4 linked regions of the Homo sapiens genome follow. The protein of the gene in region 3 interacts with the protein of the main gene of each other region in a pairwise test. Each region holds a gene or a part of one and is shown on either strand. Other genes may lie near its edges. The genes, in order: SNRNP35, SNX20, TGFBR2 and PTN.

Evidence for each region.
Region 1: the proteins of TGFBR2 (region 3) and SNRNP35 interact in binary tests that used the Homo sapiens proteins (3 or more experiments, as listed by UniProt).
Region 2: the proteins of TGFBR2 (region 3) and SNX20 interact in binary tests that used the Homo sapiens proteins (3 or more experiments, as listed by UniProt).
Region 4: the proteins of TGFBR2 (region 3) and PTN interact in binary tests that used the Homo sapiens proteins (3 or more experiments, as listed by UniProt).

Annotation. Positions count from the first base shown.
Region 1 is NC_000012.12:123,453,083-123,461,323, reverse strand, and holds the start of SNRNP35 (U11/U12 small nuclear ribonucleoprotein 35 kDa protein), read right to left. Parts: upstream 3,186-8,241; 5' UTR 3,108-3,185; intron 1,621-3,107; exon of another isoform or gene 1,436-1,620; coding exon of another isoform or gene 1,424-1,435; intron 1-1,423.
Region 2 is NC_000016.10:50,678,105-50,685,553, forward strand, and holds the start of SNX20 (sorting nexin-20), read right to left. Parts: upstream 3,209-7,449; 5' UTR 3,086-3,208; intron 1-3,085.
Region 3 is NC_000003.12:30,665,403-30,672,810, forward strand, and holds part of TGFBR2 (TGF-beta receptor type-2 isoform B precursor), read left to right. Parts: intron 1-6,235; coding exon 6,236-7,035; intron 7,036-7,408. UniProt on the Homo sapiens protein: Transmembrane serine/threonine kinase forming with the TGF-beta type I serine/threonine kinase receptor, TGFBR1, the non-promiscuous receptor for the TGF-beta cytokines TGFB1, TGFB2 and TGFB3.
Region 4 is NC_000007.14:137,333,341-137,340,748, forward strand, and holds part of PTN (pleiotrophin isoform 1 precursor), read right to left. Parts: intron 1-7,408.

The sequences.
Region 1 (8,241 bases), on a different chromosome or scaffold from region 3:
AAACCCCGTCTCTACTAAAAATACAAAAAAAAAAAAAAAAATTAGCCAGGCGTAGTGGTGGGCGCCTGTAGTCCCAGCTACTCGGGAGGCTGAGGCAGGAGAATGGCGTGAACCCGGGAGGCAGAGCTTGCAGTGAGCTGAGATCCCGCCATTGCACTCCAGCCTGGGCGACAGAGCGAGACTCCGTCTCAAAAAAAAAAGAAAGAAGAGGCTGGGCGTGGTGGCTCACGCCTGTAATCCCAGCACTTTGAGAGGCCAAAATGGGAGGATCCCTTGAGCCCAGGAGTTCGAGACTAGCCTGGGCAACATGGGAAACATGGTGAGACCCTGTCTCTGTTTTTAAAAAAAAAAAAAAAAAAAAAAAAAAGGCCAGGCGCAGTAGCTCACGCCTGAATCCCAGCACTTTGGGAGGCAAAAGTGGGCAGATTGCCTGAAGTCGGGAGTTCGAGACTAGCCTGACCAACATGGAGTAACCCCGTCTCTATTGAAAATACAAAATTACCCAGGCATGGTGGTGCATGCCTGTAATCCCAGCTACAGAAGGCTGAGGCAGGAGAATCGCTTGAATTTTTTTTGAGACAGGGTCTTGCTCTGTTGCCCAGACTGGAGTACAGTGGCACAGTCATGGCTCACTGCAGCCTCTCCCACCCTAGCCTCCTGAGTACCTGGAATTACTCACTATGCGCCACCATACCCAGCTTTTTTTTTTTTTTTTTTTTTTGTAGAGATGGGGTCTCACTATATTGCATAGGCTGATCTTGAACTCCTGGGCATGAGCTATCCTTCTGCCTCAGCCTCCCAAAGTGCTGGGATTACACATGTGAGCCAGCGAACCCAGCCTGTACTAACCTCTTAACTCCTCTCACTTCTCAACAATACCAGGACTTAGGTACTATATTATTATTGCCTTTTCAGATGAAAAAGGTCAGACACAAAAAGGCAGCCTGTGCCCCAAATCCTAAAGCTAAGAAGTAGCCCAGTGGAGGAGTTAGAACCAGGGGCAGTGTGGACTCCAGAGCTAAAGCTCTTAATCGTTTCCTCTGATGCTTTTCATAAAATATAAGGTTTTGGAGATAAAGATAGGAAAAAGAAAACACACAAACCAGTATTCTGGGTGTCTGAGGCTGAGACCCACCCCTCCTCTCCTGAAGGAAAAGAACCCCTCCCCATTCAACGTTAAAAAGTCACAAGGGGCCCGGTGCAGTGGCTCACGCCAGCAATCCTAGCACTTGAGGAGGCCAAGATGAGCGGATCATTTGAAGTCAGGAGTCACAAGGATCTACCAAATAAAACTGATATTATTGTACACAGAGCTCCTGTTCAAAACTTTAAGACTTCTTCAAATTAAAATGGAGGAGAATTACAAACGGATAAGCATGGATTTTGTTCTCTCTCTCATCTGCATGCTTCTATAGATACTAACAGCTGGTTTCATTGTTTCTCATTAATCTTTCTAGGTGCACTTCCTCCCCGGCAGCATTAGGTTGAGATTTCCTACAACAATCTCTTTCGATTTTTACATTCTCTTTTTTTACTCGAGACAAAGTCTCACTCTGTCACCCAGGCTGGAGTGCAATGGCCAATCTCGGCTCACTGCAACCTCTGCCTCCCAGGTTCAAGTGATTCTCCTGCCTCAGCCTCCCGAGTAGCTGGGATTACAGACACACACCACCACGCCCAGCTAATTTTTGCATTTTTAGTACAGACAGGATTTCACCATGTTGGCCAAGCTGGTCTCAAACTCCTGATGTCAGATGACCCGCCTGCCTCAGCCTCCCAAAGTGCTGGGATTACAGGCGTGAACCACCGCGCCTGGGCCTCATTCTCATTTTACTCATCAACAGGGGATGAGAGCCGAAATGAATGGTGGGGGCCAGGGCGCGGTGGCTCATGCCTGTAATCCCAGCACTTTGGGAGGCCAAGGCGGGTGGATTATTTGAGGTCAGTAAATTTTGAGCTTCAGGATTCTTATTGTGAAATGTAGCTAAATGTCACTTCACTAGGTTTTTGTGAAGATTAGATCATATGGTGTCTATAAAAATGCATTACAATTATAAATTATTATACAAATTTAGAAAATTTTTGGCCAGGCACGCGCTGGCTCACGCCTGTAATACCAGCACTTTGAGAGGCCGAGGCTGGAGGATCGCTTGAGCCCAGAAATTCGAGACCAGCCTGGGCAACAAAGTGAGACCCCGTTTCAATCAATCAATCAATAATCAATTCTCCGGGCGTGGGGTCGCGCCTGTGGTCCCAGATACTTGAGAGGCTGAGGCGGGAGGACTGCTTGACCCGAAATGTCGACGCTGCAGTGAGCCGAGATCGCGCCACCGCTCTCCAGCCTGGGCGACTCCCTGTCTCTGGGGAAAAACAAAAAAATAAATGAAGCCTCTCCTTCCTGGGTCTTCGGGGTAAGACTCTGCCCCTCCTGGCCGGGCACGGTGGCTGACGGCTGTAATCCCAGCACTTTGGGAGGCCGAGGCGGGTGGATCACGAGGACAGGAGATCGAGACCATCCTGGCTAACATGGTGAAACCCCGTCTCCAGTAAAATACAAAAAATTAGCAGGGCGTGGTGGCGGGCGCCTGTAGTCTCAGCTACTCGGGAAGCTGAGGCAGTGGAATCGCTTGAACCCAGGAGGCGGAGGTTGCAGTGAACCGAGATCGCACCACTGCACTCCAGCCCGGGCGACAGAGCAAGACTGTCTCAAAAAGGAAAAAAAAAAAAAAAAGACTTTGCCCCTCCTGTGAAAAGCAAAACTGAAGGCGGAACCCACAGAGCCCTCCAGGGCATGCGCAGTGGGCCTCGGAGGCAAACACCTAAGTTTCTGTGGAAAAGCCTATCCTTCCCATCCAGCCTGCAGCCTGGCCGCCAACCCTCGAGGCCGCTCCCCCGCCCCTCTCCTTCTCTGGGGGCCGCAGGGAGTAAGGCGCCATCCTTCCAATCCAGCTCTCGTCCCCACTCCCCGCAACGCAACCCAGAATGTCGTCCCCTTTGCCAGGTTTCAACATGGCGCCCCACACAAGCGCGGGCACAGCGTCTGGGCCGCACTCCCTCTTCCTTCTCTCCGGCGTGGGGCCCGCTCCTTCCAAGCCGCTTCCACTCACCTCTGCAAAGCTTGGGCTCCCTTCCGACGGAGACAGGCGAGCAGCTGCAGGCGACAGCAGATTCTCCGCGCCGGCCTCGGCCTGACCTTTACATTGGTAGCAGCAGATTCGCCGCCGACGCTCGTTTCCTGTTTGTTTTACCTTTAAAATTTTACTCCCACGCAACGAGGGTGTTATCATCTCCGAAGACAATAAGCTAAAAAAAAATTTTTTTAAGAGAAAAATTGCTAATTCAACAACTAAGTTGAAAGAAAGACTATCGAATATGCAGTTACCTGGGACATTTTACTTTATTATTTATTTATTCTTATTTATTATTTTTTCTTGAGACGGAGACTCCCTCTGTCGCCCAGGCTGGAGTGCAGTGGTGCGAACTCGGCTCACTGCAACCTCCGCCTCCCGGGTTCAAGTGATTTTCCTGCCTCAGCCTCCCGCGTAGCTGGGATTACTGGCGCCCGCCACCACGCCCGGCTATTTTTTGTATTTTTAGTAGAGACAGGGTTTTGCCATGTTGGCCAGGCTGGTCTCGAACTTCTGACCTCAAGTGATCCGCCCGCCTCGGCCTCCCAAAGTGCTGGGATTACAGGCGTGAGCCATCGCGCCCGGCCCCAATTTCTTTATAAAAAAAAAAAAAAAAAAAAAGGCCAGGTGGCATGCCTCACGCCTGTAATCCCAGCACTTCGGGAGGCCGAGGCGGGCGGATCACCTGAGGTTCGGAGTTCGAGACCAGCCTGAGCAACATGGAGAAACCCCTTCTCTACTAAAAATACAAAATTAGCTGGACATGGTGTCATGTGCCTGTAATCCCAGCCACTCAGGAGGCTGAGGCAGGAGAATCACTTGAACCCGGGAGGCAGAGGTTTCGATGAACTGAGATGGTGCCATTGCACTCCAGCCTGAACAACAAGAGTGAAAGTCCGTCTCAAAAAAAAGAAAAATCTATAGCTTAAAATTTTATGTTTGAAAATATATGGTAGCCACTGTCAGTGGAGGCCATCTGCAGTTTCAGCTACTAGGGAGGCTGAGTCGTGAGGCTTGAGGCCAGGAGTTCAAGTTCAGCCTGTCAGCCTGGGCAACAGAGCAAGACCCCTATGTTGTTGTTTGTTTGTTTGTTTTTGTTTTGTTTTGTTTGAGACAGAGTTTCACTCTTGTTGCCCATATTGGAGTGCAATGGCACGATCTCGGCTGACCGCAACCTCCGCCTCCCAGGTTCAAGCAATTCTCCTGACAGCCTTCCGAGTAGCTGGGATTACAGGCATGTGCCACCATGCCCGGCTAATTTTGTATTTTTAGTAGAGATGGGGTTTCTCCATGTTGGTCAGGCTGGTCTTGAACTCCCGATCTCAAGTGATCTGCCTGCCTTGGCCTCCCAAAGTGCTGGGATTACAGGCGTGAGCCACCACACCTGGCTGACCCCTATGCTTTTAAACACACACACACACACACACACACACACACACACACACACACACACACACACGTGGTATGTACAGTACATGCAATGGAATACTATTTCTCCTTAAAAAGAAATGAAATTCTAATTGCTACAACATCATGAATGAACGTAGTTCATGGATGAACCATGCTAAGTGAAAGAAGCATAAGGACAAATACTGTATGGTTCCACTTATATGAGGGACCTAGGATAGTCAAATTCATGGTTGGAAAGTACAGCAGTGGTTATCAGGGGCTGCTGTGGGTGTTAGGAAGATGGCGAGGTATTGTTTAACAGATACAGAGGTTCAATTTGAGATGATGAAGAAGTTCTGGAAATAGATAGTACAGATGGTTTCACAACAATGTGAATCTACCTAATGTTATTTAATAGTTAAAACAGACTGGCCGGGCGAGGAGGCTAAGGCCTGTAATCCCAGCACACTGGGAGGCCAAGTTGGGAGGATCACGAGGTGAGGAGATCAAGACCAGCCTGGCCAACATAGTGAAACCGCATCTCTACTAAAAATACAAAAATTAGCTGGGTGTGCTGGCGGGCACCTGTAATCCCAGCTACTTGGGAGGCTGAGGCAGGAGAATAGCTTGAACCTGGGAGTCAGAGGTTGCAGTGAGCCGAGATTGCGCCATGGTACTCCAGCCTAGGCGACACAGCGAGACTGCATCTCAAAAAAAAAAAAAAAAAAAAAAAAAAGAACCAGGCACGTTGGCTTACGCCTATAATCTCAGCACTTTGGGAGACCAAGGAAGGCAGATTACTTGAGGCCAGAAGTTCAAGACCAGCCACGCCAACATGGTGAAACCCCATCTCTACTAAAAATACAAAAATTAGCCAGGTGTCATAGCGCGTGCCTGTAATCCCAGCTACTCAGGAAGCTGAGGCAGGAGAATCACTTGAACCCAGGAGGCGGAGGTTGCAGTGAGCCAAGATCACGCCACTGCACTCCAGCCTGGGCGACAGAGCAAACTCCGTCTCAAAAATAAATAAATAAATAAATGAAAGTACAGTGGAAAAGGTAAATTTTATGTTACACATACATTAAAATGTCTGTGTACCCTGGTAGCAATAAGCATAACCTAGCACCCGGATCTTGGTTTCTGATATCATTCTCCAATGAAAGTAACCAGTGCTCCTTGGAGAAATAGCTGACTCTAGAACTGGGACAAAAAAATACACAAGAAGCCTGGGTGCAGTGGCTCACACCTGTAATTCCAGCACTTTGGGAGGCTGAGGCGGGTGGATCACTTGAACTCAGGAGTTCAAGACCAGTCTGGGCAACATGGTGAAACCCCGTCTCTACAAAAAGTATAAAATTAGCCAGGCCTGATGGTGCACGCCTGTACTCCCAGCATCTCAGGAGGCTGAGGTGGGAGGATCGCTTGAGCCCAGGAGCTTGAGGCTGCAGTAAACTGAGATGGTGCTATCACACTCCAGCTGGAACGAGACCCTGTCTCAAAAAAATAAAAAATAAAAAATTCGCCCAGTCATGGTGGCTCACGCCTGTAATCCCAGCACTTTGGGAGGCCGAGGCAGGCAGATCGCTTGAGGTCAGGAGTCCAAGACAAGCCTAGGCAATATGGCAAAACCGGGTATCTAATAAAAATACAAAAATTAGCCAGGTGTGATGGCACACGCCTGTGGTCCCAGCTACTTGGGACCCTGAGGTGCAAGGATCACTAGAACCCAGGAGGCTGAGGTTGTGATGAGCAGAGATTGCCCCACTGCACTCCAGCCTGGACGACAGAGCAAGACTCTGTTTCAAAACATAAATAAATAGGCCAGGTGCGGTGGCTCACACCTGTAATCCCACACTTTGGGAGGCCGAGGTGGGCGCGGATCACCTGAGGTCAGGAGTTTGAGACCAGCCTGGCCAACATGGCAAAACCCCGTCTCTACTAAAAATACAAAAATTAGCCAGGCGTGGTGGCAGGCACCTGTAATCCCAGCTAATCGGGAGGCTGAGGCAGGAGAATCGCTTGAACCTGTGAGGCAGAGGTTGCAGGGAGCTGAGATCGCGCCACTGCACTCCAGCCTGGGCAACAGAGCGAGACTCTGTCTCAGTAAATAAATAAATAAATAGAAATACACAAGATGATCTTGAAGCAACTTGTAGTACCAGAAAGTAAGGTAGTGCTAAAAATGAAACACCCCACCAATGATGATGATGTCACAGGGAGTGCTGAACCAACTGAAAGGACTCCTAATGGCCAGAGTGGAAACAGTATGAGCAACAAAATACTGTAAATTAAGTGGTACTGGATTATAACCCAAAACATAAAATAAATATCCGCCAGGCACGGTGGTTCACGTCTGTAATCCCAGCACTTTGGGAGGCCGAGGCAGACGGACCACCCTGATCTCAAGGAGTTTGAGACCAGCCTGGCTAACATGGTGAAACCCCGTCTCTACTAAAAATACAAAACTTAGCCGGGCATGGTGGCAGTCGCCTGTTAATTCCAGCTACTCACAGGGCTGAGGCAGGAGAATCGCTTGAACCTGGGAGGCAGAGGTTGCAGTAAGCAGAGATTGCGCCACTGCACTCCAGTCTGGGCAACAGAGTGAGACTGTGTCTCAAAAAATAATAATAATAAAATAAATATCAGGCCAGGTGCGGTGGCTCCCACCTGTAATCCCTGCACTTTGGGAGGCCAAGGAGGGTGGATCATGTGAGGTCAGGAGTTCGAGGCCAGACTGGCCAACATGATGAAACCCTGTCTCTACTAAAAATACAAAAAATTAGCCGGGCGTGGTGGAGGGTGCCTGTAATCTCAGCTACTCAGGAGGCTGAGGCAGGAGAATCGCCTGAACCGGGGAGCAGGGAGTTGCAGTGAGCAGAGATCGTGCCACTGCACTCCAGCCTGAGCGACAAAAGCGAAACTCCGTCTCAGGAAAAACAAAACAAAAAAAAATGCCAGGCACAGTGGCTCATGCCTGTAATCCCAGCACATTGGGAAACCAAGGCAGGCGGATCATCTGAGGTCGGGAGTTCAAGACCAGCCTGACCAACATGGAGAAACCCCGTCTCTACTAAAAATACAAAATTAGCAGGGCGTGGTGGCGGGCACCTGTAATCCCAGCTACTCAGAAGGCTGAGGCAGGAGAATCACTTGAACCCGGAAGGCGGAGGTTGCAGTGAGCCGAGATCCCGCCATTGCACTCCAGCCTGGATAACAAGAGCGAAACTCCATCTCAAAATAAATAAATAAATATCCACCAGTCCCTACTGATATAAATAAGTGATTGAATAAATAAAGTGGGGAGAAGAGGCAAATCTTCCACGCAAAATTGCAAATAACTTATGGAGATAACTCCTCTCCCCAGAAAGTAGAGCATGCCTAGGCAACATAGTGAGAACTCATTTCTACAGAAAAACAAAACAAAAAAAAGAATTAGACCAGGCACGGTGGCTCACGCCAAAGCAGGAGGATCACTTGAGTGCAGGCATTCAAGACCAGCCTGGGAAACTTAGCAAAATCCCATGTCTACAAAAAACTTAAAGTTTTAAATAAATAAATACAGGCTTAGCTTCTCAGTTGTACCAGCCTCATTTCCAGCACTTAATAGCCTCATGTGGCTAGTGGCTACCATATAAATATATATATATTTATATATATTTATATATATTTATATATATATTTATATATATATTTATATATATTTATATATATTTATATATATATT
Region 2 (7,449 bases), on a different chromosome or scaffold from region 3:
GACAGGAGGATCCCTTAAGCCCAAGAGACTGAGGCTGCAGTGAGCTATGATGATGCCACTGCACTCCAGTCTGGGTGACAGAACAAGACCATCTCAAAAAGAAAAAAAGAAAGGTCAGTGTTCAGAGCAGGTAGATACTGGTATGAATCTTCTATCGATCAATCAATCAATAATCTATCTATCAGCAAAATTAACTGATAGCTTATTATACCCACTTCATACCCATCTAGGTTCTCCATAGCCCCTAATCTAGTTTAATGCTCACAAAAGTCTATCATTACCACCACATAACAGATGAGAAAACTGAGGTCTAAAGTCACGCAGCTGGTGAGTGTGCGCAACAAGCAAAGCTGAATTTGTCTCCAGTGCTTGTGACGTGCTGGCTGTGCACTTCACACCCAGCACACACTCTTGCACTAACCTGAACACTGTCTGCACTCAGGACTGTTTACATCTCCCTTTTATGATAAGGGAACTGAGACTTAGAGTTGCCAAAGATGAGGAGCTGGTGAGTGGTGGGCAGGATACAGACCCAGGCTGGGCTGACTTCAGAATTCTCTCCACCTTACTCAGGGAGGGAGAACAGGCAGCTGGGATCTGGTTTACATAATAACTCTGTCTGTGACCCGGATAAGTGGAAGGGATGACCTGGTAGCTGGCAAGTGACTCAACTTCTCTGTGCTTCTGTTTCCTATAAATTGGGGATAATAACAGAACCCACGTTCACAAGGCTGGGGTGAGGATTCAGTCAGGCAGACTCTGAAGCCTCAGCTCAGGGCCCTGTCCATCCCAGGGACTGTGTAGTACCCCCGCTTTTAGTGTCTGTTAAGTGCTAGATGTTTCCAGAAATATTTGTGAAATAAATGACTAAATTAAGGTGGATTGGAATAGAATTACAAATGTTTGAGACAACTTAGAGAAAGGGACAATTAAAACATTAGATCGGCTGGAGGGAGTAGCTGGTATACTGACTGGTTAGGCATGGAAATTCAAGACAAGGAAGGTGCAAATGACCTGAGGAAGCTGCCAGTGGAACATAGAGGTAGAGCTGGGACTTGAACTCTGATCTGTTGGATTCTGGGCTCTTGGTCTGAACCCCTGGGCTGACTACGGCCTAGAGAAAGATAGAGCCAGTGCCTCCCTGGCACCCCCTGAGCACAGATGGGGGCGGGAGTCATGCATGTCCCTGAGCACAGCCAGCGCCTGTCCCTTGCTCCAGGGGTGAGAGCCGCTGGCCTGGGAGAGGGGAGGTCAGCTGGGGCCTGGAGCCTGCACTTCAGGGGGAAGTGCTTGCTGTGTCGGGTGAAAGGAACCCTGGGGCCTTCTCCGTTTGGCTCTGCACAGCCATCCAGTGGGCGGCCCTCAGGGACCCTCGATCCAACCTCACCTTTTACAGATGGGCAAACAGAGGCACGGAGCAGGGGCCTGGCTGGCCCAGGGCTGCACGTTCTTGAGCATGCCGTCACGGGCACCTCTCGCTTGTCTCTTGTGCCTGTCAGGGAGTCAGGAGACATCGCCTTCCATCCTGACCAACCGTGTGTCCTTAAGCAAGTGCTTTAATATCTCTAGGCTTCAGTTTCCCTACCTGATAAATGTGGCTACAAGCCCCGTCCTGTTGATAAGATGATGGATGACTAGGGGTGGGTTCCCTACATTCTGACTGGTGCCTAAGTGAGACAGTGGATGGTTTACGTGATTCTTGGTGGCTGGGATTCTTGGGGGCCCAGGGCACTCCTATGCTCAGCACTTCTGTAAAATGGGTGATGGCGAGTGGCCTTGGCCTCAGGGGCCCCAGCCTTTGCAGATCTGCTTTCATGACCAGGCAGCTGGCTCCAGGTCAGAAGCAGGGCACTATTGGCCCAGAGACCCTGTAAGACCCTAGAAATGATGCCTCGGCTTGACACTCCAGTAAAGACTGAGAAAGCTGATTATAAAACCAGGCCTTAGAATAAAATCAAATTCAGCAGCCACAGTCAGCTCCCTTATGGTTGTCTCTTACAGGTTTCATTGGGAGTCACCCATTTAAAGAGGAGGGGGAAGGAAAGAGTTGTGCACTGGTGTATCCATGGGGCCTTGGGTAGCTTCCCATCCCTCTCCAGGCCTCAGTTTCCTCATCTGTGAAATGGGAAAGCAATCCTGTCACTCTAAAAGCTCTCTGGGGATAGCCACATAGACGGTTCCATGGCCCTTTCCTTCCCTCTCCTCACCCTCTGTAGCAAAGATTTCTTGACTTTATAACAAAATACTAAAAGTGTTGTTGCTGTTGGCCTGGGGGCCTGTAGTTGGCCCAGGGGACAGAGCAGCTTCCCAGCCTCCTCTGCCTTCCAGCCGTGTGTGCACAGACAGTCATTCTCCTCCTCCTGTCCCCAGGTGTCCTAACCACCCCCTCTCCAAGAGCTGACTGCCAAGTCCAGTCCTTCTTCTGCTGGGCACACAGAGGCCACACTATCTTTCTGAGGGCCTGCGGAGGACTTTTCATGGGGGATGAGCCTCTAGGGGGTGAAATAAAGCACATGGCCCACGCTGGGAGACAGAGATCCCAGGATGTTGGATGTGTGGCTGCCTCTCTTGGGGAAAGGGTGGGTACCCTCCAACAACTGGACGCTCACCTGAGAAGCCTTGCCAAAGCCAGGGGCTCCCAACCCAGTGTGTGTAAGAATCCCCTGGTGGGGTGGGGGTGGGATCCCAGGGGCTTGTCCAAGAGCAGGTTTCCTGGCTGCTAACATAGGAAGGTGCCATTGAACAGGCCTGGATTCTGCATTTTCCATGAGTCCTCTAAGGCTGTGCTGAGGCAGGGGTTCCCTGACACTGTTCTTTTGAGAAACACAGGTGTGGTGACTTATTCTCCAGGCCCAAGATGGGTTGTACAAGCGCCTAGCATTTCAAAAGGAATGGAGGTGATGGAAGGTCCAGGAGCTGTCCCTTCCTCTGCCTCAGTGTGCTAAGGAGAGCTCCAGACACAGTGGCTGTCACTAACTCTTCCCCCTCCCACCCTGCCCCCAGCAGGTGCCAGGCAGGGCCCCAGGAGAAGGGGACTCAGGCCACAGCAGGCAGAGGACAGCTGAGCTTGGGATCAAATACTGACCTCCAGTCTCCAGGGCTGTGTGTGTCCAGGGGTCCGGGAGGAGTGTCATATGGCCCCTTCGAGCTCTTGGTTCTCAGCTCCGGCGACAAGCCGAGGGGCTGCCACTTTCTAAGTTCCCCGTTTGAAAACAGGAAACAGGCTGTGTGACCTGCTTCTGATCGCCCCAGCCCATTGGCTGGTGAAACATGGTATATTGAACTCAACTGCCAGCCTGCCAGCTGTACCCACCTCTTCTTCCGGGTAGCGCAGGGAAGGGCAAGGCGGTGTGGGGCCAGCCCTGTGGGATTTAGCTCAGCCTCACTTTCCCTGCCGCCTTGCAGAGGTCTGGCTGTCCTTCGAGTCCCCGTTGATCTCTGGAATTCAGGCATTAGCTCCCAGAGCCCTTTAACATTCATTATTCTACTCTATGAGCTAGGCATGATGGGGGCCGTCATGCCCCTTGAACAGATGGGAAAACCGAGGCTTGGATCACAGAGCTGGTGGGACACAGAGCCAGTGACTGACATAGAAGAGCAGTGGGGTAGAATTACAGTTCCATCTGGTGCCTTTTCTCTGAGCAAAGCTGTATCCATCACCACCAACAGAAAGTCCCAGGGAAGCGAAACCCCAGGGCAGTGTGGTGTGATTCATGCCCACCCATCTTTGTGGCCTTGAAGGCAAGAAACAGAAATCAGACAAAAAAAAAAAAAATAGAACTTTGCTGGCTCGCCCAGAAGTTTGCCATGTGTTTTTTTTTGAGCCATGATTCCCTTCCTCCCTATTAGAGGCAGTCACAGTCCTGATTCAGATGGGGGTTACTTCTTGGCTTTTCCTTAGAAATTTACCACCTATGAGATCCCCAAACAATTCAGTTTCATTTTACTCATCTGTGAATCTTATATAAATTGAACCATGCATACTGTGTGTATTCTCCAGTGCCTTGCTTCTTTCATGCAACATTTATGGGTATAAGATTCACTGATGCATTTCTGTGTAGATACTTTTTTTCATTTCCATTGTTGTGTTGCTACATTATTATTATTATTTATTTTACTTTAAGTTCTGGGATACCAGTGTAGAACCTGCAGGTTTGTTACATAGGTATATATGTGCCGTGGTGGTTTGCTGTACCTATCAACCCATCATCTAGGTTTTAAGCCCTGCATGCATTAGGTATTTGTCTTAATGCTCTCCTTCCCCCTGGCCCCCACCCCTGACAGGCCCCAGCGTGTGATGTTCCCCTCCCTGTGTCCATGTGTTCTCACTGTTCAACTCCCACTTATGAGTGAGAACATGCTGTGTTTGGTTTTCTGTTGCTTCATTATTTAAATACATCACCATTTGTCATTTTTTGTTTTGTCTTTTGATGCACACTTGGGTTGTTCCTAGGGTGGCCATCATGATCAATGCCACTGATGATATTCTTACACATTTATCCAAGTCCATGTACTTATCTGAGGTGAAATTGCTGGGTCTCAGAGTATAGATAGCTTCAACTGTGCTAGATTACGCCAAATATTTTCCACAGTGGCTGTGCCATTTTGTATTCCCACCAGCAGTATATGAGAATTCCAGGTGCTCCACCTTCTTACCTGCACTTGATATGGTCATTATTATAATTATTTTAAAGATGGGGTCTTGCTCTATCACCCAGGCTGGAGTGCAATGGTACCATCATAGCTGACTGCAACCTAGAACTCCTGGGCTCAAATGATCCTCCCACCTCAGCCTCCTGAGTGGCTAAGACTACAGTTACGTCACCATGCTTGGCTAATAAATTTTTTTTGTTTCTGGAGGGATAGACCATCATGGCCACTATGTTGCCCAGGCTGGTCTTGAACTCCTGGCCCCAAGCAATCCTCCTGCCTTGGGCTCCCAAAGTACTGAGATTACCAATGTGAGCCACTGTGTCTGGTTTGGTCAGTGTTTTTCAGTGTACCACTGCATTAATGTGCAGTGGTCTCTCATCAAGGTTTTAAGTTGCATTTCCCTAAGGACTAATGATGTTGAGCATCTTTTCATGGGCTTATTTGCCATCCTTATACCTTCTCCAATGAAGTGTCTGTTCAAGGTCATTGCTCATTATTGACTTGATTATTTTTAATGGTTTGTAGGTGTTCTTTATGTATTCATTTGGGTTTATGTGCTTCTCAATATCCTTTTCCATCCTGCAGTTTGCATTTTGTACTCTCTTAATGGAGTTTTGTGACGAATAGAAGTTGTCAACTTTAAAGAACCATATTAGTCCTTTGATATGGTTGAATTTCAACTTTCCTAATTGCAACATGAAATTTAATGAAGTCCTCCTAGTGCCAAAACATTCCGCCTTGAGCCAGTGTCATCCTTGGAGGGCATGAAGGTTTCTCCTGTATTTGCTTCTGCAACAAGCTCATAGGCTTGTGAACCTCAAGAGGAGTTCAGATGAGCCAAACACTTAGAACAACACTGTTCCGAGCTGTACAAGTGCTGGCAGTTCTTACTATTCTAAAACCGTTGCTGCTTGTCTTTTTCATTGGAGGCTCTATAATGTCCCTGTTTACCTATTGACCTTGCTTATTGACATGGCCCTGCAATTCCACCTCTCTGCAGTGCCGTCACTGTCATTAAGAACCTCCACATCTGCAAAGGTCTGTCTCTGGGCAGAGCTCACGAGGAGTGCCATGAGTGGTGTGCCTCTGGCCTGCTAGCTGGGGCACCCCGTAAGTGCAGGGGCCATAGGTCGGTCATCTCCGCCTCCCCCTGCCCAGCAGAGGGCCTGGTGGTGTGGCTCCCTGCATACAGTGAGGCTGGAATGCCCTCTCCTCCCTGGGTTGTGTCCCGTAACTTTCCAGTTTTCTCGCCTACTCTCTGCCCAGGCCTGGAATCTGCAAGACACCAGGGTGGACTCTAAGCCTTTCTCTGCAGCCCTGTGAGCCTCTCATGCTGCAGAAGGCAACCACAGGGGAAAAATGTGTGGTTGCCGCCACTTCCTCTTATGGGGAAAGGAGACGTTTCTTGGAAACCCCCTGATGGAGAGGGGCCTGGCCTATGTCGGTAGGACCCAGCTGAGCCAGAGTGACCGGAAGATGCCACGCATGGCCACCTGTTGGATGTTGCTTTTTCTCTGCAGCCAGAGTTCTCTGTGGTGGAGGCAGAAGGCATAGGTAGTGTCTTAGCTTGGGCTGCTGTAGCAACACACCGCAGACTGGGCGGCCTAAACAACAGACATCTCTTTCCCACAGTTTTGGAGGCTGGGAAGGCCAAGATCAACGTGTTAACAGATTCAGTATATGGGGAGGGTTTGATTCCTGGTTTGCAGATGGCTGCCTTCTTGTTCTATCCTCCCATGGCAGAATGAGGGCTAGAGAGTGCTCAGGGATCTCTAACCTCATGGCCTAATTACCTCTTAAAGGCCTCACCTTTTTCATTAGGAATTCAATATATGAACTATATGAACTTGGAGGCCACATACTCAGTTCATAACAGGCAGACAAGGTCCCATCGTCATGCGGGGGACACAGGAGTGGGCATCCTCCATTGCAGCGCTGAAGCCAGATGGCGAGGAGGGTCACCACGAGGCACCAGGAGTGAGAAAGGGGAAATACTAGTAGTGTCTCAGAATCTGATGCCTCTCCTAGAATTCAAAATCAGAGCACCTCTCCATCTTATTTGGACCCTTCAGTGGCCTCCCACCACATTCAGAGTAAATCCGAACTCTCTGCTGAGGCTTCCATGATCTGCCGCTTACCGTTTGTCACTCGGTCCACTCCCAGTGTCACCTACCACACACCAGCCAACCCAGACTGCTCTCTGTTGCTCAAACGTGCCTTTGTTTTCGCAGTTCCTTCAGCTGGAAATACCCTCCGCTTGGTTTTTCCATCTCTGGCTTATCTCATCTCATCTCATCTCATCTCATCTCATCTCATCTCATCTCATCTCATCTCATCATCTCATCTCATCTCATGAAGCAGCAGCTTCACTTTCGCTCCTCCATGCAGCCTTCTTCTGACCCCTCTGTCGAGATCTGTCCTTGTTTTGCTTATTTGTATACTTGTGCAGTTCCTGTCTCAAATGCCACAATGGCAGGGACTTTGTCTGTATCATTATCTGTGTCTCTAGCACCCAGCACAGTGCCTGCCACATAGTGGGTGCTCAGTAAGTCATTGTGTGCATGAATGAATGGCGGGGTGAATGCAGAGAAGTGGTCACCGAGGCTGTGGCTGCAGCTCAGCCCTGACTCATTGTGTGATTCTGGGCAGGCCACCACCCTGTCTGATTTTTGGCTTCCCTAATTGCAACATGAAATTAAATGATGTCCTTTTACCACCAAAGCATTCTACATTGAGCAAACAATTGAGTACTAGAAGCTACCCCTCACTACCGCTCTGGATGCCTGACATGCTTGG
Region 3 (7,408 bases):
CTAACTCATACATAGGGTTATTGGAGAAATAAAGTAGATCATGTTTACAAAATAAATTGTCCGGTGCCTAACCCAACAAAGCACATCGTATATGAGTTATCTTTCTTATTGTTACAAGATTTCAAAGGAGGGCTTCTCCTCAAATTCTACACTGCGGAGCTCCCTTCCCACTCCACAGAAGCTCCGACAGCATCCACAGTTGTCCATGTGCAGCACAACAAATCAAGCCAGGCAGATCTCCCATTGGCACTAGTTACCAACTTCCTAGAGAAACCCATCAATCTCAAAATTCCTGCTCTAGCAAGTCCTGGAAAAGAGACTAGAGCCCAAATGCCTTCACTCTGCCAAGGGAGCTTCCCTTTTTGTGTGTCTGTGCCATGGACTTCTTGAAGTAGGGAAGCCTGTGGACCCCTTCTCACTGTGATGTTTTTTAAATGCATAAAATAGAACATGGAGTATTTCAAAGAAAACCAATTACATTGAAATACAATGACCAAATATTTTAAAAATGAATTTGTGTTATAGTAATATATGTTTCTATAATAATGCTTTAAATAACAATAGCAGCAGATCTAAACAATTGAAATGTCTAAATGGTGAGCGTAAGTCACATGCTGAGACGTCTGCAACAACAAACTCATAGGTACAGCTGATACTAGGAAATATTAATTTTTAATTAAAGGTTAGAGAAAATAAAAAAAGATGCAATTTTTGCCCATTCAAATTCACAGACCCACTGAACTCTATTTATGGAACCCAGGCTAAAAATGTTTACTATTATAGCCTCATTTTTTTATGGGCCTTGGATAAATTCCACCCTTATTTTTAATGCCCTTCAGAGCTATATCTGGTTCAATGTTATTACTATTCATGGAAGGTCCCAATAGTGCAACAATTATGTTTTGAGCTCTGCTAAGATCTAGGCCATGAGAATAGGCTCTGAGAAAAGAAAAAGATTTGGGGGTTCTCCTTCACATAAAACTTTTTATTTCCTGGCAGGAAAAAGATGCATATTTACAGAGACACTACTAAACTGTGGTTCTTAGTTCAGAACAAAGGAATATAATCCCCATACCCAAAATATACTCCTTTAGACACATTATACAAGAATTGCCAATGTCAGTCGGTGGATGGCTGTAAAATCACTTAGTCCAGGCTACACTAAAGAAAAACACTTTATCAAATTGGGAGCTTATATAAAGTCATTCTTCCCCTCCCCCGCAACCCCTACCCCCCCATCCCCGCCCGCACAAACACAGGGTCTTGCTCTGTTACCCAGGCTGGAATGCAGTGGCAGGATCATAGTGTGCTGCCGCCTTGAACTCCTGCCTCAAGTAAAGTAATCCTCCTGCCTCAGCCACCGTAATAGCTGGGACTACAGGAAGCACCACAGTGTCTGGCTAATTTTTTTTTTTTTTAAGTTTGTGTAGAGACAGTCTCACTATGTTGCCCAGGCTAGTCTCAAACTCCTAGGCTCAAGTGATTCTCCCGCCAAAGTGCTAGGATTTCAGGTGTGAGCCACCACACCCAGCCTAAGGTCATTGCCATTCTTAGTTGGCTCTCACCAATATGAAGTTTAGAGATCAGGTATGGGGTTGAGATCAGAAGTCTCTCCAATCAGGCAATGCTCATTGTAAATACCAGCTTTGCTGTTGCCTAAATTTATCATCTGGGAAAATTACTTAAACTGTCTGATCTTTAGCTTCCCTATCTGTAAAATGGGGTTTATAATAATAGCAGTTTCTACCTCATAGGGTTTTTCTATCAATTAAATTTAAATATTCTATAAAATCCTTAGCACACAGCCAGGAACTTAGTAAGTGTTCAGTTTATGAGTTTCTCTGTAACTGGCGGCTGATGAAAAGAAGCATTTCCTGTTGGTCTTCGACTAAAGGAGATGCTGGCTTGTACCTACACCAACAGCTGTTGGGTTTTCTAGTAGCAACCCAAGGGTTAATACTGCCAGAGGGTGTGGGTGGCTCCTGTTTAGATAAAGCCACATCCCAAAGCTTCCTTCCAGCCCTGGTTGCTATTGTTAGAGTTTTTCACCACCTCTTTGAAGTTTCAAGATTGACAGATGTTATTCAAGAATTCCTCCCCCTCAAATTTTTTAAGTGTAAGTCTTCTAAAGAAATAACAGGAAATTTTAGGAGAAAGTAAAACTTTGGTTTCTGACATTGAACTGGGGATTTCTAGAATCTTCTTCAGTCAGTGCCACACATAAACTTAAGGGGATTTCTGTTTTTGTGTTTCCTTTAGGCTAAAAAGGAATTGAAATTAGCAAATACGACTGTTTTTATAGATATTTAGGAATTGTAAAATAAAATTATCCATGATGAATCAACATTTCATCTGGACGTTTTAGTGAATTAAGGACAAAGCTAAGTAATTATGCAGTTAATATTTAAATTTTTTCAAATTGTATTTCTCATATGTGAAAAAAAATTGACTACATATTCACATTTGGCCAAAGTGAAGTCTCTCCAGATTCTGCCAATGAGGTTATTAAAATAACACCTCTAGAACAGGGGTCAGCAAAGTTTTTCTGTGAAGGGCCAGATAGTAAATATTTTAGGCTTTCTGGGCCAGATAAGATCTCTGTTGCATGAACCTCTTAGTTTTATTGTTTTTTAAACAACTCTTTAAAAATGGGGATGGAAATCATTCTTAGGTCATAGGACTATACAAAAGCAGGCCATGGACTTCTGAGCCATAGTTTGTCAAACCTTGCTGTAAAATATAAAAAATTTGAGAAGTATCATTCCACGTAAGTAATCATTCAGCTTCTAAAACAAACGTTTGTTGAATACCATAAATTGCCCCATTCTGCCCCAGGTGCTGTGTATATCATGATGATCAAAACAGACCTGGCCACTACCCTGCTTTGTCAGGAGAGAAGCAATCAGATAATCAAGTGGATTTCTGATTATAAGACATTCCATGTAGTTACAGACACAGAGACCGGAGACAAGTGGGTACTTCAAGCAAACACATTCATTGGATACCACATATAATAGAGGTGGAGTTTCAGGCAGGGAGCATTGTGGAAGTGGTAAGCCTAAGTGGAAATGCCGACTGCTGGATCGGCTGTTGTGTTTGAATTTGTGTTGTGTTCATCTGCCCCCTTAATTTTGTTTGCTGTACAACAGGGACAGTCCATACATCTCCACAAGAGCATCTTTTTTTTCTTTTGCATTCAATCATTCTGTAATTGCTTTGTCCCACCCCATTTCTGCCCTACTCTTGCCTGTTCTTTGTCCCAATCCAAGCCTCCCAGTGTAAGAATTTATGTTTTTAAGGATCAATCACCAAATTTTCTCACTTTCCCTATACTTTTAAAATGCATTCATATATCTTTCCAAAAAATGGTGATTTTTTTTTTCCCTCTTGGTTGCTGGAATTCTGATATCTTGGGGTTACTTCTCTGGTTACTAGACCCAAGATTTTCATCTAGAATATATAGTCAGTGGAAGTTGGCATTTCCACTCAGACTTACCTTAAGAACAAGTAATCATATTACACATAAACCTTAAAAATGGATATGTACCAGCTTCATTTCTCACTGTTTCGTTAGATGAAAGTTTCAGATGCTGGGCCAAGCGCAGTGGCTCACGCCTGTAATCCCAGCACTTTTGGAGGCCAAGGCGGGCAGATCACAAGGTCAGGAGTTCAAGACCAGCCTGGCCAACATGGTGAAACCCCGTCTCCACTAAAAATACAAAAAAAAAAAAAAAAAAAAAAAAAAAAAAAGCTGGGCATAGAGGCTAAGGCAGGAGAATGGCTTGAACCCAGGAGGCAAGGTTGCAGTGAGCAGAGATCGTGCCATTGCACTGCTGCCTGGGTAACAGAGCAAGACTCCATCTCGAGAAAAAAAAAAGAAAGTATCAGATGCTGAAGTAGCTATGTAGACTGGGGTATATAACCTGGGGTTCATCATCATGAGCCAGGAAAATTTAGGATATGAACACACATGAGGAGTTTAGGAGTGGAGGTTTAATAGGCAGAAGAGAAGAGAAAGAGAAACAATTCTCTCTGTAGAGAAAGGAGTCTCCAAGCGGAAAGGACGGGCCAGTGGTGAATGTGCTGGATTTTATAGTCCCGTTTGAAGAGGCGGTGTCTGATTTACATAGGGCTCACAGATTGGTTCAATCAGGTATGACGTTTACATAGTGCATGGGGAAGACTGGTCACCCCACCCTAATCTTATTATGCAAATGGGCTTTCCAGTTGATCAGCACCATCTGGTCTGTTCTTTGTTGTACACATGGCTGACAAAGAGAAGGGAAGATGGAGCTGCCATCTTGAACATGTCCTTAGTTCCTGCTGGCATTCACCCGTGCAAGCTCCCAGCTTGCCTGTCTATGTCTGAAGCTCAACTTTACAGGCTGCTCTTTGTTAGAAAATGATTTGGGGCTGCTTTTCATTAAAAAGAAACACCTTACCGAGGACTTCCATACCCTTACTATCTGCCCAAGTAATTTCTTCTTAACTCCTTTATCAGTATCATTTAGGTAATGGGTTCCCCTTGAGAGAATTTGGTTATATCCTCATTCTACCTGGACTATATTCTCATCACTTTTTTTTTTCTCTTTAAACACCTACTGTAGGTGAAAACTGACAAATGAATAATCAAAAGATCCTTTTCTGACACGGAGTTTGGTTCCATACCACCTACCCATTTTTTTCCTTTCTATTCCGCAGGTGCAGAGTGGTCAGTATGGGATAATTGCTCTTCCTTAAGTAGATCATATATTCTTTCTCCTTAACATAGCACTCTTTCCACTCATCACTGACTTTTCCCATTCTTCAGAGACCAACTTAAAGGCAGTTTTTTGCTACTGTGCCTTCCATGTTTCTCTAAGCTTTTCCACATTCCACTAATATATAGATTACATTGTACATTTAGCCCCTATCCCAGATGCCATATATTGCTTACTTGTATATATGCCCTAAGTCCTCTACTGGGTACTCTCTGAGGGCAGTGCCATGCCCATCATAGACACTCAGTAGTGATATATTTAATGAATGATTCTAGGATCTGAGCATGAGGCCTGCTCATTAATGGGTACTTTGGAGGGCAGATGGATGACACATAAAGCAATAGAATTCTGCATGTTTGCCCAATGAAAGCAGCCCAGCACAAGCTCCCAGTGAACTAGAGCTGCCTTTTGCTCTCTCCTGTCCACTGTCTGTTTCTATTCATGTCCTTCTTCCAAAAAGGAAAACTATTTCACCAGAGCCAACAAGGCCAGCACATGAAACAAAGTTTGAGGCACAAGATATTATAGTTAGATATCTGGTGCTAAGGACTCTCCTTGTCAGCCCACAGGGGCCTGCTTCAGAATTCCAAGTCAAAAAACTGCAGCATTTCCATTTTTAACTTGTTTTACCTTTGCGGCCATGTTTCCATTGTTGCTATTAAATATTTCAGTTCCATGAAACTACAATTCGTATGCACACTGAAAAGAGGAATGTTGGGTGGATGTAAGATAACTGTCCAAAGAGATCCTTTCCATGGACTCCTCTCCCTGTCACCCATGGGCCCAGGGTAGCCTGAATGCTGATCAGAGCAGAACAAGTTGGAGTTTGAAAAAGAGCAAAGATTTTGGTGCAAACTGTGGCACGCTCTGTGTTTTTACCAGATGTCATACATGCAGATTTTTTGAAGGCAGAAGCTGTGTCATTTTTTTTCATGTTCCCAATGTCCTGAGCTTAGATAACACTCAGTAAATGGTTTGTCTTTTTATTTGGCAATATTGAGGACCTGCTGTGTGCTAAGTGCAGTTTACAGTAGTGAAGAAGACATGGTACCTTCCAGCATGGAGTTCCCTGTCCGTGGGGGATGGCAAGAGTAGGGAAAGACAGATGTGAAATCAAGAGGTAGAGTCATAGTTCATTTAGTTTAAGTTGTACTGAATTGTTACCTAGGAAAAGTATAAGGTGCTATGAAAATGTATAAAATAAGACAGTTTTCCAAGTTTTTCTAGGCCTCTCTTAAGCAGTGACATTTAAGCTGAAGTTTGAAGGAAGAGCAGGGGATGACGAACAGATGGCCAGAGGCAGGGAAGGCTGAACGAGCATGCACTTGCATCCCTGAAATAAAAATTAACAATATCGTATCTACAAAAACTATGCAGATGCTAAAATCTATAGATGCTCAGGCATGAACCCACTTCCTGACAGTACTTACCTACCACATCCAACTCCTTCTCTCCTTGTTTTGTTTCCCCATCAGAATATAACACCAGCAATCCTGACTTGTTGCTAGTCATATTTCAAGTGACAGGCATCAGCCTCCTGCCACCACTGGGAGTTGCCATATCTGTCATCATCATCTTCTACTGCTACCGCGTTAACCGGCAGCAGAAGCTGAGTTCAACCTGGGAAACCGGCAAGACGCGGAAGCTCATGGAGTTCAGCGAGCACTGTGCCATCATCCTGGAAGATGACCGCTCTGACATCAGCTCCACGTGTGCCAACAACATCAACCACAACACAGAGCTGCTGCCCATTGAGCTGGACACCCTGGTGGGGAAAGGTCGCTTTGCTGAGGTCTATAAGGCCAAGCTGAAGCAGAACACTTCAGAGCAGTTTGAGACAGTGGCAGTCAAGATCTTTCCCTATGAGGAGTATGCCTCTTGGAAGACAGAGAAGGACATCTTCTCAGACATCAATCTGAAGCATGAGAACATACTCCAGTTCCTGACGGCTGAGGAGCGGAAGACGGAGTTGGGGAAACAATACTGGCTGATCACCGCCTTCCACGCCAAGGGCAACCTACAGGAGTACCTGACGCGGCATGTCATCAGCTGGGAGGACCTGCGCAAGCTGGGCAGCTCCCTCGCCCGGGGGATTGCTCACCTCCACAGTGATCACACTCCATGTGGGAGGCCCAAGATGCCCATCGTGCACAGGGACCTCAAGAGCTCCAATATCCTCGTGAAGAACGACCTAACCTGCTGCCTGTGTGACTTTGGGCTTTCCCTGCGTCTGGACCCTACTCTGTCTGTGGATGACCTGGCTAACAGTGGGCAGGTAAGTTAGAGCTAGTGCTAGATCCCCTTTACCTTGAGCCTGGCCTCACCCTACCTCTTGATCCATATCTCCTGGCTCTTATCTCAAACAGCCCTGTACTCTGGACACTGGTCTAGGGAATCTAGCCAAAGTATGGAGTCTGCCTTGAGCATACTCTGCTCTGTCCTGCCTGAGCATTTTTGCTAATGGACAGCATTTCTCCTCCTATCTTCAAATCCTTCCCAGTTCAGCACATTTTTTCCTCCTGGATCAATCCTCATTTCTCTTCCAGCAAATGTTTTTTCTTTGTTTCAAGCACTGTTAGTACTTTACCTCTATTTTTTCCCTCTCTTATGGTTGTACTCAGTCCTTTCTGCTCTATACTAGCTGTAGT
Region 4 (7,408 bases), on a different chromosome or scaffold from region 3:
TCCTTTATAGCAACACAAAACAGACTAAGATAGCTTCTATTTGTTCTAGCCTGAGTGAAGATTTTCTGTGTTACCTAAGACTGTTACCACAATATGTTCCTTATTAATTAAATCTGGACTCTGAAGCAAAAAGCCCTGGCTGTTTCTCTGGGCAGCCCCACCGTCTTCAAGGAAGTCACAAAGATGGATGATTCCTGGTCTAGTTCCATTATGGTATGGAAGGAAAGAGTCTAATGCAGTTATAGACGTTAAAATGTGAAAGAAGGGAAGACTCTTAACACTAAGTAAATATATTACATATATCTTTTTCATATTAAGAATGACTTTCTTCACAGAATTGGAAAAAACTACTTTAAAGTTCATATGGAACCAAAAAAGAGCCTGCATCGCCAAGTCAATTCTAAGCCAAAAGAACAAAGCTGGAGGCATCACGCTACCTGACTTCAAACTATACTACAAGCCTACAGTAACCAAAACAGCATGGTACTGGTACCAAAACAGAGATATAGATCAACGGAACAGAACAGAGCCCTCAGAAATAACACCACATATCTATAACTATCTGATCTTTGACAAACCTGAGAAAAACAAGCAATGGGGAAAGGATTCCCTATTTAATAAATGGTGCTGGGAAAACTGGCTAGCCATATGTAGAAAGCTGAAACTGGATCCCTTCCTTACACCTCATACAAAAATTAATTCAAGACGGATTAAAGACTTAAACGCTAGACCTAAAACCATAAAAACCCTAGAAGAAAACTTAGGCAATACCATTCAGGACATAGGCATGGGCAAGGACTTCATGTCTAAAACACCAAAAGCAATGGCAACAAAAGACAAAATTGACAAATGGGATCTAATTAAACTAAAGAGCTTCTGCACAGCAAAAGAAACTACCATCAGAGTGAACAGGCAACCCACAAAATGGGAGAAAATTTTCACAACCTACTCATCTGACAAAGGGCTAATATCCAGAATCTACAATGAACTCAAACAAATTTACAAGAAAATAACAAACAACCCCATCAAAAAGTGGGCGAAGGACATGAACAGACACTTCTCAAAAGAAGACATTTATGCAGCCAAAAAACACATGAAAAAATGCTCACCATCACTGGCCATCAGAGAAATGCAAATCAAAACCACAATGAGATACCATCTCACACCAGTTAGAATGGCAATCATTAAAAAGTCAGGAAACAACAGGTGCTGGAGAGGATGTGGAGAAATAGGAACACTTTTACACTGTTGATGGGACTGTAAACTAGTTCAACCATTGTGGAAGTCAGTGTGGCGATTCCTCAGGGATCTAGAACTAGAAATACCATTTGACCCAGCCATCCCATTACTGGGTATATACCCAAAGGACTATAAATCATGCTGCTATAAAGACACATGCACATGTATGTTTATCGCGGCACTATTCACAATAGCAAAGACTTGGAACCAATCCAAATGTCCAACAATGATAGACTGGATTAAGAAAATGTGGCAAATATATACCATGGAATACTATGCAGCCATAAAAAATGATGAGTTCATGTCCTTTGTAGGGACATGGATGAAATTGGAAATCATCATTCTCAGTAAACTATCGCAAGGACAAAAAACCAAACACTACATGTTCTCACTCATAGGTGAGAATTGAACAATGGGAACACATGGACACAGGAAGGGGAACATCACACTCTGGGGACTGTTGTGGGGTGGGGGGAGGGGGGAGGGATGGCATTAGGAGATATACCTAATGCTAAATGACGAGTTGATGGGTGCAGCACACCAGCATGGCACATGTATACATATGCAACTAACCTGCACATTGTGCACATGTACCCTAAAACTTAAAGTATAATAATAATAAAAAAAAAAGAATGAAGTTTTCTAAACACTTTTCATTAGCTTTTAAAGCAAATGAAGAAGGCAACATTTGGATCACTTACACCCTCTCCGAGAAAGACCCCAGCAGAAGCACTGGTAAGGAGGCCCAAGTGCAACATCTGGCCAGGGGCTTTTTACACTTAAGGGAACTTCAGTGAAGTCAATAGCAAATCAGGTGGTGTCTGCAATTTTCTTTCATAAATAATCATACATTGTAAATATTATTTGGTCACAAAGATGTAAGTTTTAGAAGCTTTTGCATATAACATATTGACAATGATCCTCATCATTTTTATTAAGCTATGGACATCATGACTGGAGCATTCTGATTTGTCTCCTGTTCCCTCAAGTTTGTTGAATTAAACTGTTGTGGCTTGCTACTCAAAGAGAGGTCGCCAAGCTAGCAGTACTGCAGTCACCTGGGAGCTTGGCAGAAAAGCAGACTCTGAGATTTCATTGGAGACCTACTGAATTTTGGCAAAGACCCTGGGTGACTGGTATGAACATGAAAGTTTGAGAAGCACAGTTATCCAGCTATCATGTAAATGAACTGCTGTTAGCCAATTACTAAGGCTTATATTTAGTGAGAATAACCAATTAAAAAATGTGACATGTAGCTTTTAAGACACTTCAGAAGGAAATATAACATAATCTGAGGTAAAAGAAAGCATGCCTGTTTCAGTTCAGCCTCATTTAAGATGTCTTCTCGCTTTTTTTTTTTTTTTTTAGTATGACTCATTTCTTTTTCTTCATTCCTGTCGCACATCTTACCTCCTCCTCACTTTGTGAGTCAAACTTACCTTCAAGCAACTTAGGCAATCTCTGTGTGTCCTGAGAAAATGACAATGACAATAGCAGGATTGGGAAACCAGAAAGGCAGAACTTGCCCCACTGACTTTATTAAGTTCAGTTCATGTTCAGTATAACAGTTTAGAGCTTACAGATGTTGCGTCGTGACCATTGACATTTACCACCAACCTATGAGGTTGGCAAAACAAGTAACATCATCATCATTTCCCACTTAGAGCTAAAAAACCTAAGATTTCAGAAGATTCAGTGGCACATCCAGCAGCCCATACCAAACAACAGGCGGACTGTGGTGAGATGCTGGTTCCTGACTCCAAACCTTAACTCCTTCCCTGGACTGAAGCCTCTATCAGCAGGGGTCAGAGAGAATGTGGTTATGAGCATCACTAAGGTCAGCAATAAAGTGCCTGTCTCTTGGATTGGGAGTCTTCTGTATGCAAAATGCTCTCCTATACCTTATGGGAAGGGATAAGGTCAAAGAGTCTGCATCGGAGACTTTGCCTGCCCAACCCCCAGGCCTTGAGCATGATCACATGCTCCGTATGTTTTCTTCCAGAAGAAAGGATTTTCAATCTGCATTTAGAGAGAAGGAAGAAAATGGTATGAGCATGTGGAGGGGCGAGGCCTTTCAAGAAGCATGGAATTCCACCTAGGATTTTGCTTGTATGTTTGTTGCAGATGCCAAGTGGGCATGAGAAAGAAAAGCAATTCAGGAGGGGGAAGAAGTGAGGACTTGCATCTGGTGCTGCTTCACCATGATCATCATTTTCACCATCCTGCTCAAACACTCCCAGCAATCAGACTCTATGTTCAGTACTTCACATTGATTTTCTCAATTACTACTCAGACGTCAATCCTGGAAGGTAGGTATGTGCTCCCATGTTAGAGATGAAAACACTGAAGTAAGAAAGACCACAATATTTGCTCACGGTCACAGAGCTACTAAGAAGTGCAGTGGTTTATACCTCAGTATTTTGGACCTTGGAGCTCAAATATTGAGCGATTAAGGCTACTGTTTCTAATGTTTCATCCGTATCCACATGCCCTGTCGTATGTCCAGGGTCCTTGATTCCACCTCTTAAATCAGAACTGCTGAAGATGGGCTCCAGGCAGCTGGAACCTACACATGACGCTAGTTAATCTGATAAACATTGAAGACAGGGAACTGCTGCTGTAGGTTATTTGACCTCTAACTGTACATACATTGGATTTGGGGTTTGACATGAGAGACAAATGGGAGATAAAATCTATTTATTAGCCTAAGAAAGAGATGGCATTATATTACAGAGGAATAAACTCAAACTAGGAATTTTAAGACTTTTGTTTTCATATCTGTATGTCATTGAATATGGCCCCCTTAACTTCTCTAAGCCTGCATTTCTGTATCAATTTTTTAAAAATCCCACTCAATCTACCTGAGTAGAGTTACAAAAATATGATGAAAAAATAAATGTGAAACATTTTTAAAAACAGGCCTTATAGCTACATAGAAGTTATAATGAAAATAATGCTTCAAATTACTAGCTTTGTCACTTTGAATAATATGGTTTGTTAAAGAAGAGGTAAGTAAGGTTTTCTCCATTCTGGAGGTAGTCTTGAATCGGCAACTATGAAAAGTTTAAAATTATCAAGGTGAAATATGATTAGGAAGACACTGTAGAGAACCAGCAAGCCTATATGACATTTGTAATGAAGGGAGTGAAGGAAAGAGAGTGGGAGAAGTTTCTGGAGGTTCAAAGTTGAGAATGGGAATGCTTGGGCTTAAACAGGAAATTGGCACCAGGTTGTTTGGTAAGGCAAGGGGATTAGGCATAGAACACAGATGGTCAAGGTGGGTGGAACAACATGGGCAAAGAGAATGAATGGCATTTAGAGCTGCCTATTTTCTCACTCATTTGCCATCTTCAATGGTTCTATGCTAAATATGCTAGGGTTCTTGAGAGAATGAGAGACAGCCCTTGCCTTAATAGGGTGCACAGGTTGGATGGGGTGGGGCTGGTGTCAAATGGTGAGAAAGGAGGAGCTGAAGTCACTATAAGGGGTGATGGGGAGACTTCGAAGACAAGGGAAGAAATATAGCTCCACCTAGAGGGGGCATTTGCCTTGGAAAACCTTTGGTGCCTTCAATTTCCGACTCAAGATTTCACCCAAATTCCACAGCTGAAGTACAAGGATTTGCCTTCTTTCCCTTCATGTATATGTTTTCATTAAAGGACACTCTTCTCTTCTGGTATAAATTTTCCTGAAAAGGACATCTACAGGGAGTGCCATGTCTTAAAAATTATATTGATTCTAAATAAACTCAGTCTGAATTCTTAAGTTGTCACTTCCAATAATTTGTTTCTGCTACGTTATGTGGCAAATGTGAAATGAAAACACGAAGGAATCAGGAGTTCAATTTCCCTTCCAGAATAAACAGCATTAAAGGAACAAACAGACATAATGCTTTTGAAATAGACGTTGCGTACCATTTAGCCTTTTGTGAGCTCCACTTTCCTTTTTCTCATAAAAATGTGATCCCTTTGTCATTGGAACTGCTTAGGGCAACAATTGTACATATCTTCCTCTAACCTGTGTTGTAGTAATTAGTGTTTTAATGTTCTTACATATATATTGAGTAGATCATTAGCTGCTTGAAGACATATTTATTTGTCCTGTTTCCCTCATCACACTACCTACCATATAGTATGTCAGTCACTATGCGTAAAAGTCTGGTAGGGATAAAAATAAAATAACAGGAAGTCCTTTACTTCAATCTCCTCCTCCAAATAGAATTGTGCCTGAATGATTTCCTTCAGTATTCATTGAAAAAATATTAAAAATGTGAGTCCAGAGCTCATTAGAGAGAATCTTCCTTCAATTCTCTTCAGATCTGAGAATTTTCCTTGTGAAGGAGTTAAAGCTCAAAGAAGAGTTGTGACAATACTAAAGCATTTGGAGAGGAGAGAGGAAGGCGGGAAACTGAAATATTTGGAAATAAATGTACACATTTGGAAGACAAGAAAAAAAAAAGCAAAACAAAACATGAAAAAAGGAGTGCCCAAAGAAATTAGGAAAACATTAAGACAATAACATATCAAGGAGGTTACAGTATGAGATAATCATAAAATGTTGGGATTAGCAATCTGTGACTTTTAAAGCATCTTTTCCAGAGATGGGTGAGGGTATAATGGATTTTAATTGAGATCTCCTTTAAATACATTTCTAATAAAGAATTTCACAAGTTCACACCACGTACCAAACACAAAGTATTAGATATTGTGAAACCATAGAGATAGACACCATGTTCTATTTCTTAAACATGCTACATTGTCCAGCACAATGTAGTATTAGGCATCCAACATACGTACAATAAATATTGTTAAATTGGCTGGCCACAGGAGCAAGAAAAATTGTATTGTTGGAGTAGGACCCCGAGACGATGTGATGGACATGAGTAACTCCAGCTGCGCCTCTACATTGATGTTGGGAAACTGAGAAGAGAATGAGGTCAACATTGCAGTGATGAAAATGTTGCCTGACCCTTAGGCAGGGTCTTGAATCAAAAAAAAAAAAAAAAATGGGGGAAAAATGCCATTGAATCAGTAGAGAGGGCACTGGTGTTGAAAACATCAGCTAGGAAGGTCCAAGCTTCCAAGAATGCCAACATATGGGCAGGCATTCCTGGTACATCCGTACATAGAGAAATGTATGCCATCATAGCAAGAGGGAATTGGGCAAGACGTTCTGGGACCTGTTGGGTGGGAAATAGTGGCAACCAAATTAATGGAGAAATGAGAGAAAAGAAGGAGAAATAGGTAAATGTAAAAGCAGGAAGAAAAGGGAGCAAAGGGTTAGAGACAGAATGCTATTTGTGTTTTAAAATTATGTTTTAGCTTTTGCTAAGAGCAATTCTTAGAATTAAGAGCCCAATTATCAGTTACTATGAGTCACTTTTTTCAAGATTAATATACAGCGCTTGATTTTTTGTTACACTATGTGTGAAGTTGAAAAAAATCTAAGACTTCTATTTTTAGAAAACTGGATATGATTTTTTTCTGTTTGAGATATCACTTTATCTCAACCCACTCTGAAAAAATGGTTCAATAAATAAAGCCTAGAAAAATGAATTAAATTTTATCCCTAAAAATATCTCAAACATGAAGGAGTCATTGTATTCCTTGTCCACCCTGAAGAAATAGAGATTTGTGGTGAATGTGATCTACATAATTAAGTCCACAATATTCCCATATTTATAATACCCTCTGATAGTGTTCCATCATAGCTACCCTTTTAAGATACTGTTTTAATTTCTTATTTACTAAATGCCAAAATAGAAAGAAAAAGAGGTTTGTTATATTTTACAATCTAGAAATATTGTAATGACACCATGAAAACTATGCCGCACACTAGACTGGCTTGAAGTGGATGGAAAAATAGCCCAGTGGGTGGAAACTTGAATTGTCCATAAACATCAGAAGGAAAAACAACTTTCCACGAGGCCATGGCCCAAATTCCACTTAAGCCAATTGACTCTGGATGGAAAAAAGCAAGCCCAGCTCATAAAAAGAAGGTTCATATCTGAGTATCATCTTACTTCGCCTCCCACAGCAGTGACATGACCTTGTGCCAGAAGGAGGCAAAAACTCTTCGACTATTCATTTAGAACAGAAGCCAGAGCTAAAAACATTCCTCACCCTTATGGAGAAGCCCAACTCAACATCACTAGCAAAGCTATGGAACA